Linked DNA regions of Homo sapiens. The protein of the gene in region 2 interacts with the protein of the main gene of each other region in a biochemical or structural test. Each region holds a gene or a part of one and is shown on either strand. Other genes may lie near its edges.

Region 1 (3,654 bases), about 40 Mb from region 2:
TTGCTAAAAATACAAAATACAGAAATTAGCTCGGTGTGGTAGCGCATGCCTGTAGTTCCAGCTACGCGGGAGACTGAGGCAGGAGAATTGTTTGAACCCGGGAGGTGGAGGTTGCAGTGAGCCGAGATCACACCACTGTACTCCAGCCTGGCAACAGAGTGAGACTCTGTCTCAAAATAAATAAATAAATAAATAAAATTATCTAATTCTAGAGTCTTTCTTTTTGGATGAAATTATCTGGATTTGAAATACCATATTATACCCAACACTATATTTCATACTTTGCAGCAAAATTAAACATACTATCTAATGATTTCCTTTTGAGATAGTCTATTATTGGCACTTGTTTAAAAAGTCCTTATTCACATGAATGATGTAGGCTTTAGAACTGAACACCATACAATATTGACAGTTTAAACATTGATTAGAAAAAAGTGAGAGGATTATATATTTTTAATTTCATCTGTGAAATGATATTAAAAGATCAGCATTTGATTACTGAGTACTTACATGGGAAAAAGCAATTACTAAAAATGTTAAATAAGACCATACTCAATATTCTACAAGGTTCTAAAATTAGTGGGGAATGAATTATTGGATGACCAAATTACATTATCATTGGAAGGACTTAAGTTATTTCTCGTCTTGATTTTAATCAAACATTTTCATTTGGATTAGATTAAAGAGGATATTCCTGAAACAAAGATGAAATTCTTATCAGTTGAAACTCCTGAGAATGACAGCCAGTTGTCAAATATCTCCTGTTCGTTTCAAGTGAGCTCGAAAGTTCCTTATGAGATACAAAAAGGACAAGCACTTATCACCTTTGAAAAAGAAGAAGGTATGACTAATGTTAAAAAATATGACCATGTTATTTGGAAAGCACTTTCATAGACATTTAGCTATTACTTCGCTAATATTACTTCACTTATATTATTTCTTATCCTCATAGTGACGTTCTGAGGCAGGTATGATTATTCCCATTTTACAGATGAGAAAACTGACTCTGAGACAAGTGCCTTGAATATGATCTTGTATTCAGAAAGCCATGACTGTGGGACTTAATCCAGGTGCTATGATGATGTCCAATACCAGCCTCTTTCTACTCCACATGCTACCTCCAAATAATGATAGTAATATTTCAAGGTAGTAGAGCTGTACAGTTCTCAGAGACATTATCACATTTTATACTCACACAATTCCATAAATATAGGAGGATAGGATAGTTATTATTGTGTACTTTAAATATAGACATGCCAGAGCCAAGAAAACAGATTCTGAGGATGTTTAAGTGATTTACCTAAGGGAACATAGCCAACGAATGAGAAGAGCCTGGGAGCTAGAGATTTGGAATGAAACCTAATGTTTGCTAAGTCTGCCATGGTGAGGGCCCCTGTTCAGAGCTGGGGGTTCCTGAGTGGGGAGGATCTGGCTTTGAGTGCCAGCCTTGTCCCTTCCTAGAAGCATGATTTGGGATAGGTTCTTTATAAACCTCAGGGTTTTATACAGGTGCTTCATGGTAGTACCTACTTCATGAGGCTGCTTTGAGTATTAAATGAGAAATGTTGATAAAATACTTAGCACAATGTTGGACACTTAATACAAACTTAATGGATGTTAGTTTTTGCTACATGTTAGAAATTTTTCAGATAAGGATACAGAAGCTTAAAGAAGATAATTAACTTGCTTAAAGTCTATACGGTTAGTTGCAGAGCTTAGAGCCAAACCCTGAGAGTCCATGTACTTCCACTGGGCCAATATTTCTCTCGGTAGGCCACCAGCCCAGGCCTTTGTTCTTTTATTTAAGTTATGTGGTGAGGGACCAGATGGTGTTCCCAGCCCTTCCAGTGCTCATATTCTGACAGTCTATAACCCATGTTTCCTCAAAACTGGTGCACCACTGTAGCCTGAAAATAAATGTTGAAAGGCATTCCAGCAGGACAGTATCTGTGCGTAGAAGACATGCATCGCCAGTGTGTTTTCCTTCACCCTGGAGCTACTGCTACAGGTAGAAGAGGAGTCCAGGACTCATACTGGCGACTGGTAATCGGGATATAACTAAAAGATAGATATAAATGAGGATTTGGGAGGCAGGATTTCTGCACAGCAATTTCCTGGGAATGTTGGAAATGGAATTCTCTAAAAGCACCTACATCATTGCTTCTACGCTTGACGTGGCTCTGAGCTCCCAATCTCCTGGGACAGCAGTAGGTTTGAAACACAATTAAGTAGGAGTTGGCTCTTGATTGTCAGAGTCACAACAATTGAGACACAAGCGGTCCCTCTCAGCTGTATCAGATCACCAGATGTTGGGGGTTTGTGGAAGAGTGGGAGGGAAAGAGGATCATCTGAGTATTACTCATTGATATTTTCTGTTATTGTCTGTTGTCATTAGCAAAAAAACACAAAAACACAAAAAAACAAAAAACCATCATCCAAGTTATAGAGTCATATTTTGGTACAGTGAGTTGAATTCCCACATGGCCAAGGCCCTGCCTTCTGGCCCTTTTTTCTCTTCCTCCAGCTGTGGTGTGGTGCCATCTGGTCTGGTTGTCATAAACACATGTGAAGTTTTATAAGACAGAGAGTGAATGTCACTTATTTTCATGATACATTGGAATAGCAGCCCCAAATATCAACAACTGCAGTATTATAAACTCATGCCACACAATTAAAAATAAATGCCCACTCACATTTTTAATTGACATAGAGTTGCCTTTTGGAGTGCTAGTGATTTTTAGCATTTTACTAAACCTCTCCCATTTGCACAGGTAAATTAGACTTGACAGCTTTGTGATCAATATAGCAGGACTATCAACTTTTTAAAGAATGATTTCAAGAGCATTTTTGCAAAAGTGGAATTCGTCATTAAGTATGACCAAAAAAAAGACTCACTCTTTGATGTTCCAGCCTATGTAGTCTTTAACATGTAATCCTTGAGAAGACAGAGCAAATGAATATATATTGCTCTAGTGCTTGTAACATATTAAGGAGTAACAAATGATAAGGTTAAGTAAAATCAAGACTAATTGTACAAATGACACTTAGCCATGAAAGTTTTCCCAGCTTACTGAACATGGGACACTTTCTGGCTGTGCATTAATGTACTAGGGGAATCCTCTGGTAATTGTTAATAGTGGAAGGAAGGGTATGTGGCTGAGCTGAAGTAATATATGAATTCTGGAAGATTGTTAGGCTTATCTCTTAAGAGATAAGAGAAAAGATTCATCTTATGAGAAGAATCTAGAACTTGAGAACTTCTACATTGTGATTTTGCTGATATACTTTGACATTAATATATTCTACTTTGGGACCAAGAGCAGTGGCTCATCCTGATAATACCAGAACTTTGTCTGGGAGTCCGATGCAGGAGGATTGCTTGAGTCCAGGAGTTCCAGAGCAGCCTGGGTAACAAAGTGAGAGCTCGTCTCTACAAAAAGTTAAAAAAATTAGCTAGGCGTGGTGGCATGCACCTGTAATCATAGCTATTCTGGAAGCTGAGGTGGGAGGATCTCTTGAGCCCAGGAGTTTGAGGTTACAGTGAGCTATGATCACATCACTGCATTCCAGCTTCAGTGACAGAATGAGATCTGGTCCTCCTTCCCCCTGACCCCCCAAATTATATATTCTACTTTGGTAGCAAGACCATTATCA
Region 2 (3,654 bases):
TAATGCCAATAAACTGGATAGAACTTTGCATATTTTGGGCTCAGACTTCTTGTAAGATTTCAAGTTGTGTAAAGAGAAAGCTCCTAGCTAGTGTCCTGCTGAACACTAGCTTATTTCCAGACTGAATTCAGATCCTTCTTCTCGTTGTTTCTGCATTCCCACTAGAATTTTAGGTGACTCAGGCAGGGAGGTTATAGCTCCTTAAAGTTTTAGGAGGCTAAGCTGTCTAGAAACACAGTAGAACTTTAATCCCCCCGAAAAGTTGATGTTGTATTCTGATGGAATTTCGGTTGATGGAAAGCGTACACAATGTGTTTATTTCTAGCACCAGAGCCAATGGAACTTGATGGCCCTAAAGGAACTGGATATATCAAGACTGAGTTGATTTCTGTGTCTGAAGTGTAAGTGAACACAGAAGAGTGACATGTTTACAAACCTCAAGCCAGCCTTGCTCCTGGCTGGGGCCTGTTGAAGATGCTTGTATTTTACTTTTCCATTGTAATTGCTATCGCCATCACAGCTGAACTTGTTGAGATCCCCGTGTTACTGCCTATCAGCATTTTACTACTTTAAAAAAAAAAAAAAAGCCAAAAACCAAATTTGTATTTAAGGTATATAAATTTTCCCAAAACTGATACCCTTTGAAAAAGTATAAATAAAATGAGCAAAAGTTGATCAGAGTGGGAAAGTAGTTCTTTTCAATCTAGAAAAGGCCAAAGTAATGATTGAGATACACTGTCTCCACTTGCTTTGATTTTGTTGTTTCATTTTATAAAAGGTAGAAAAAATTTTGGAAATGTCATTGTCAGTTATTTGGCCTGCAGCACTGTCTTGGGGTGAATGGATGTAGCCTTCATGTAAAAACACTGTGTGGAGCAGCTTTATCTGCATTCAAACCTCAAGGTAGGGATGAGGGACTCCCCAGACATTTCTCTGGTGCTTTTCTGTCCAGGGTAAGCCACGAGGCATTGTCATCTCAGGGTAGTGCACCGCACATGCTCACACCTAGGCTTACCCAGGCAGAAGCGGCACAGATTCCAGTCTGGCTATTGCTTATCACATCCCTGGAGTGTGAAACATTTCCCAAGGGGCTGGGCTGGGGACATGAGCCTCCCATGAGCTGTACTTTTGCAAATGTATTTTACAAGTGTATGCACTTACCCAAAATAAAAATATAACGTGATAATTCAATTACAGACAAAAGATAAAGTGTGTAAGTATGCACTAGTGCTTTCATCACTCAGATGTTGACATTGCTCTTTTCTTTTTCCCCATTTTAGTCACCCTTCTAGACTTCAGACCACAGACAACCTGCTCCCCATGTCTCCTGAGGAGTTTGACGAGGTGTCTCGGATAGTGGGCTCTGTAGAATTCGACAGTATGGTGAGTACCACGGCTGGCCTGTGTGTAGCTCTCAATAAGTGTGTGTGCTCAGAGGCAGGGAGCGCACCATGGCAGATCCCGGGCCTGTCTGCGGGAGGGAGCCCTGGCGGAGCCAAGGAGAGTGCAGTGCTCAGATGAGCCATGACAAGTTGGAGCTGCTGGATTTAAACCACCTACATCATCAGTGGGATTTTTATTCCTCGCATTCAGCACCTTCCAAAAAACAAGTGACATTTCTAATATTCAGGTTTCCTCCTCTCCCCTTTAAAGTTGTCCATGTAGAAATTTCATATATTAAGGAACTAAGATTTCTTTGATAAGCAAATGTTTTTCTTCGGAATGCGATTTCATCACTGTGTCTAGGGGAGGGAGTGTTATTTTTAGAAAGGGAGGGACTAACGCTTGGTAGTTACAGTAATTAGAGAGAATTATACTTTAGCAGCAATGAGATTACTTCATCTGCCTTATATTTGAGAGCTAATTTGTACAAGTAGCTCCTGGGGCTGTGAAGGGCTTGCCAAGAGTAAAAGGTTCAAGGAGTGAAATAGTTAATGAGATTCGTGATAGAAATGGGAATATGATTGTCCACAAAAGGGAACATCTTCCTTTTGGAGGGTGCTTTTTTAGTATATCAACTAGTATTGTTTGCCTTTCAGCCTAAAATCCTTCCTCTTAAAGATTGTGCTTGCTTGGCTGGATTTTTGCTGATGCTGTTTAATTTTAAGCTCTTTTCCACATGGAGCTATTCCAGCTCATTTTTAAAAATTTATTTAATGCTTCCAAAAAATATCCTGAGTTATTACTGGCCTTTCTTCCTTACTGTATACCCGGTGCCTGGCAAAAAGTAGGTGCTCAACAAAGAGAGGAAGGCAGGGAGGGGAAAGGTGAGCGAGAATGAGAGGGCGTCACTCTTCAGACATTTGGGGAATGCGATGATAAGGCCTCAGTAAGATCTGCCTGGATTCAGGTTTCTCATGTGTAATTTTTTGACTTTTTTCCTCACCTTAAGCACGGGCTACAATCATTAGAGATTGTACCTTCCTACACTTTCCTGATTGTTGTTGACGAAATAGGCCATTTAGAAAAACAGTTAGCTATTGTGGCAGCGAAATAGTTTCATTCCTATTGGCAAGTGTAAAATGAACCTTTTCTGCATGTAAGAAGGATCCTGCTAGAGTTTCGCTCCCAACACTGCTATAGGCCTGGCACAAAAATGGAATAAATATAAAGCCCTATTCAGAAAATATGTTACATCACAGGAACTGTAAAATGGGGGGATTTTTTATACCTCCTTTGTTGTTCCTGAGCAAATTACATCATCATCACCACCACCATTAATAGGTGACATTAAGCACCTACAGTATACCATGTACTTCACAGGTAGTAACTCATTCAGTCCTCACAGCCACCTTCTGAGTTAGGTGTTATTGTTATTCCTACTTTGACAGATGTGGGAACAGAGCCCCTCCTCCCCACACAGCCCCTTTTATGTAACTTGACTAAGATCAAGCAGTTAGTAAATGGTAGAAAGAATATTTGAATCTACCTAGTGAGTCTCTAGTGCATGCTTTTGTCCGGTATCCTGGAAAGCCTCCCACAAAAAGCTAATCTTTGCCCCATTCAAAACATGCACCCTGAAGAAGCTGTTTGTACAGGATTGGGTTTATTCTGTTATTAAGACAAAGGCATCATGGCCTTTGGGTGAGAGGCCCGTATGTGTTTGGGATTTGGCAATCAGCATTCCATCTCTGTCATCACCATTATTGAGAAAATAGATGGATTGGTTCCCTCTCTGCAGTCCTGTGGAGCAGTTGGACTGCTCTCTCTGCTCTCAGGATGATACTGTGAGAACAATTTAAATATGCTAAGCACATGTCAGGAAACAGTTTTGTGGTCTTTGGACACTCGCTGTAGCCATTCCGTTCCATTTCAGGTGATTTTATTCATTTCATTTGTAGAATAAAATAAATCCATTTCACACACACACACACACACACACACACACACACACACCCTCTATACACCACTAAAGCCTCCCATTAAACCCATAGAAGACTTAAAGAGCTAAAAGAGGCTATAATATAAAAAAAAAAAAAGAAAAGAAAAGAAAAAGAGTTCATAATATAGGCACGGCACTGGTTAGACAACGGTTGAATCAGTCTCTAAATTGGGTTGACTTCACAATGGTTTGCTGTCCTGCCCCTTGGCCATGACTTCCATCCAGCATCTACTCTTAGAATCAGAGTGTATACTCTGAAACAGAAGCAGCTC
Region 3 (3,654 bases), on a different chromosome or scaffold from region 2:
ACTGGAAAGACTGCTGAGCACCACCGGCCACCCTGCTTGCCCACAAAAGCTATTTCCCCTAGTGTCTCTCAGGCGGGCCGGCTGAACGCAGCCAGGGGCTCAGCTTACTGGCTAAGCCAGGGAGAAGGGCTCTAGAGTTAGGAACCAGACAAGAATGCAAAGCAAGTGTAACCACTGCTTGTGGATTAAGGAAATAACTTGTTTGAAGAGATTAATTAAAGGCTTTTCATAGTGAGCCAAATGAGAGCTGGCAGCTTCCTTTTCTCAGGAAAACAGTCAAGTGAAGCCTCTTTAACTGGGCTGGCATGTCCTGCAGCCTGGAAGCTGATGGACATGTATGAACCGGCCGAGGCTGCTGGGAGTCAGGCATCAGACGAATTCACACACCTGTTTTTATACATCCACCGTCACATCCATTGTGTTAACTGCTTTGCCACCTCCTCATTCTGCAACTGGCATTTCTGCTACCAGCTACAAGGCCCTTCTTGGGAAACTATAACCAAGTAGGGGGTTTTCTAACTCTTCTTCTGATAGCCACATGAAGCTGGTGAAGACAGGCGTGAGCGAGAGGAAGGGTAAGGCTAGAAGGCACTCACTTTCTGCAGGCACTCCGTCTTCTCCTTCTTCTTGTTTCGGCACTTTGCAGCTGCAATCTTATTTCTTTCTCGTCGCCTCTTTTTCCTTTCATCTTCTTCAGGGGCTACCTGTAAAATCCAAAAGAAACACATTTAAAGGGCAGTAAGAAATGCCACCTACCTCAAATACACTGCCTTTTACTGCCAGCAAAAGCTGGCAGACAAGGGCAATGCTAGCGCTAAAAGACCCCGAAATACTAAAGCTCTAGACTTTTGTGTGAAAACCCCTACACACACACACACACACACGCACACACACACACGTGAGTGAACAACAAAAATCAAAGTTAAAATTATACCGGCAATATATTAGTAAATTAAAAGTTAGCCAATTTTAAAAATGCATTTGGATTTTGAGATGAGGATAATATGCAAATTGATAACTATTGGTATTAACTATAATCATTTAAAGCCGAAACAGATTCTGTCTGGTAAACATCTCCTTTCTTTGAGAACCAGGAATGATCTCAGGATCATTACCTAGCCACCCACTCCCGGCCTCTTCTTCAATTCAAGACCCAAGGGCAACCCCATTCACCTCTGACTTCACCTGGAGCATCAGAGCACCAGCTTCCCAAATTTGGGAGAAGCCCATGATGCTCCTGTAGAAAAGGCACCTAAGCCCATTCCCAACCAAAGCGGCATTAATCGGCCCATGCTGGGGTGCCACCTGCAAGTGGTGAACTAGGACAGTCTTTTAGGTCAGTCCCACTACTCCTTGCCCAAAGGCTGCAATCATGCCAGTTGAGTAAGCCTGAAACACTTCCACTTGCCACCATGAGGAAAAGGCCAATAAAATGGTGGAACCTCAGCTCTGACATCCTTAAGCCACTATGGCATCGCCAGAAGCCACCTCCCAGACTTCTCACCATGTTTATTATTCCAGGAGTCTTACCCAAGGTTGCCAAGCGTGGAACAGTGCAAGTGTGTCAGACAGAAGTGAACCTGGAGCAACACCTGGTCCCAAGGCTGTGAACATTGCTACAGGGAAGGGTGGGGCAGGCTGCCTGGTCCTTGCTCTACTGTCTGGGTGCTTGGGTCCTAGTAGTGATAAAAACAGGGACCACCACGCTCCAAGCTTCTTCAGAACAACTGGACACAGAAGGTGGCCTCATCCTGACTCATGGCTTTAAGTGCCATCTATATGCCGATAATTTCCAACTCTATTATCTCTAGCCCAGACTGTCCTCTGAACTCCAGACTCACATATCCAACTGCCTGCTTGACATCTCCACAGGGGTCTGCAGAATAGGACAGACCTCCTGCTCTTGCCACCACCCTAACCCCTATAATCCCAAATCTCAGCAGCAAATGGACGCTCCATTCTTACAGCTATGCTGGCCAGAAAACTCAGTCACCCTTGAGTCTTCCCTTTCTCTTACACCCCACATCCAATCTATCAGCAAATCAGCTTTACCTTCAAGTCAGATCCAAAGCCAACCACTTCTCAGCACCTGCACTGCTCCCTCCTGCTGCAGGCCCCCTGACTCACGTGGATTCCTGCCACGGCCTCCTTTCTGTGCACTCAGCTTCTGTCTTACCCCTACTGCCCATTCTCAACATGACAGCCAGGGTGATCATTTAAAAATATAAATCAAGGCTGGGCGTGGTGGCTCACACCTGTAATCCCAGCACTTTGGGAGGCCGAGGCGGGCGGATTACCTGAGGTCAGGAGTTCGAGACCAGCCTGGCCAACATGGAGAAACCCCGTCTCTACTAAAAAAATTCAAAAATTAGCCAGACGTGTGGCGGGCACCTGTAATCCCAGCTATTTGGAAGACTGAGGCATGAGAATCCCTTGAACCTGGGAGGCAGAGGTTGCAGTGAGCCAAGATCATGCCACTGCACTCCAGTCTGGGTGACAGAACAAGACTCTGTCTCAAAAAAAAAAGTGTGTGTGTGTATCTGTGTGTGTGTGTGTGTGTTGAATCTTGTTGCTTCTCTGCTCAAAAGCCTTCTGTGGTTTCCCACCTCACTTTGAGCCCAGGGCTGCATCTATACAATAATAATCTGTAAGACCCAATATGACCAGCCCCTATTTATCTCCCACCCCTATACTCTGCCCCACTGCACAGCCCACCAGGCACCAATACTTCCACCTCAGTGCCCTTAATTTCTTTTACCAGATACCCACGTGGCTTCTTCCCTCTCCTCTTTCCTTCTTCCTTTCCTTTTGACCTCTGCTCAAAAGTCACTATCAGTGAATCCTTACCTGACTTCCTAATTTAAAACAGCAACCCCGGCTGGGTGCAATGGCTCATCCCTGTGATCCCAGTGTTTTGGGAGGCTGAAGCAGGAGGATCGCTTGAGCCCAGGAGACTGAGGCTACAATGAGCCGTGATCACCCCACTGCACCCCAGCCTGGGTGATGGAGCAACACTGTCTCTAAAAGCAAAATGAGTCTTGCTCCATCACCCAGGCTGGAGTGCAGTGAGGTGATCACGGCTCATTGCAGCCTCAACCTCCTGGGCTCAAGCGGTCCTCCCACCTCAGCCTCGCAAGTAGATGAGACTATAGGCCATGTACCACCTTGCCCAGCTAATACTGTCATAGAGATTGGGTTTCATTGTGTTGCCCAGGCTGGTCTCAAACTCCTGGACTCAAGCGATAATCCCATCTTGGCCTCTCAAAGTGCTGGGATTATAAGCGTGGGCCACCATGCCTGGCCTGAAAAGTTTTTAAACCCAGCAACCCCATCCCTACCCGTTCTCTCTGCCCCGCTCCCTGCTTTTTTCTCCTTTGCACTCATCTCTTAACGTGTACTTACGTATGTTATGTACTTCTGTCTCCTCCCAGGAGAAGGTAAGCTCCCTGAGGGCAGTGGTTTTGTTTGTTTCACTCTCAACAACAGCCCCCTGCCTAGAACATGCCCAACACACAGTGGCTGCGAGCGAAACATGTGCCGAAAGAATGAATACCTGTGATAGAACCCACCTCGGCTTTTGTGATGGACACCCCGAGGGGTCTGTCGCTGACAGTGACTGATTCCAGCGCAGAGGACATCCGGTGGCAGAGGTGC

The links.
Region 1: the proteins of STAT1 (region 2) and NMI form a complex in vitro, tested with the Homo sapiens proteins (one study listed by BioGRID).
Region 3: the proteins of STAT1 (region 2) and ATF3 form a complex in vitro, tested with the Homo sapiens proteins (one study listed by BioGRID).

The regions. Positions count from the first base shown.
Region 1 is NC_000002.12:151,276,015-151,279,668, reverse strand, and holds part of NMI (N-myc-interactor), read left to right. Parts: intron 1-678; coding exon 679-841; intron 842-3,654. UniProt on the Homo sapiens protein: Acts as a signaling pathway regulator involved in innate immune system response.
Region 2 is NC_000002.12:190,972,559-190,976,212, reverse strand, and holds part of STAT1 (signal transducer and activator of transcription 1-alpha/beta), read left to right. Parts: intron 1-301; coding exon of another isoform or gene 302-325; coding exon 326-401; coding exon of another isoform or gene 402-405; exon of another isoform or gene 406-675; intron 676-1,280; coding exon 1,281-1,383; intron 1,384-3,654. UniProt on the Homo sapiens protein: Signal transducer and transcription activator that mediates cellular responses to interferons (IFNs), cytokine KITLG/SCF and other cytokines and other growth factors.
Region 3 is NC_000001.11:212,615,177-212,618,830, reverse strand, and holds part of ATF3 (cyclic AMP-dependent transcription factor ATF-3), read right to left. Parts: coding exon 3,570-3,654; intron 705-3,569; coding exon 597-704; intron 1-596.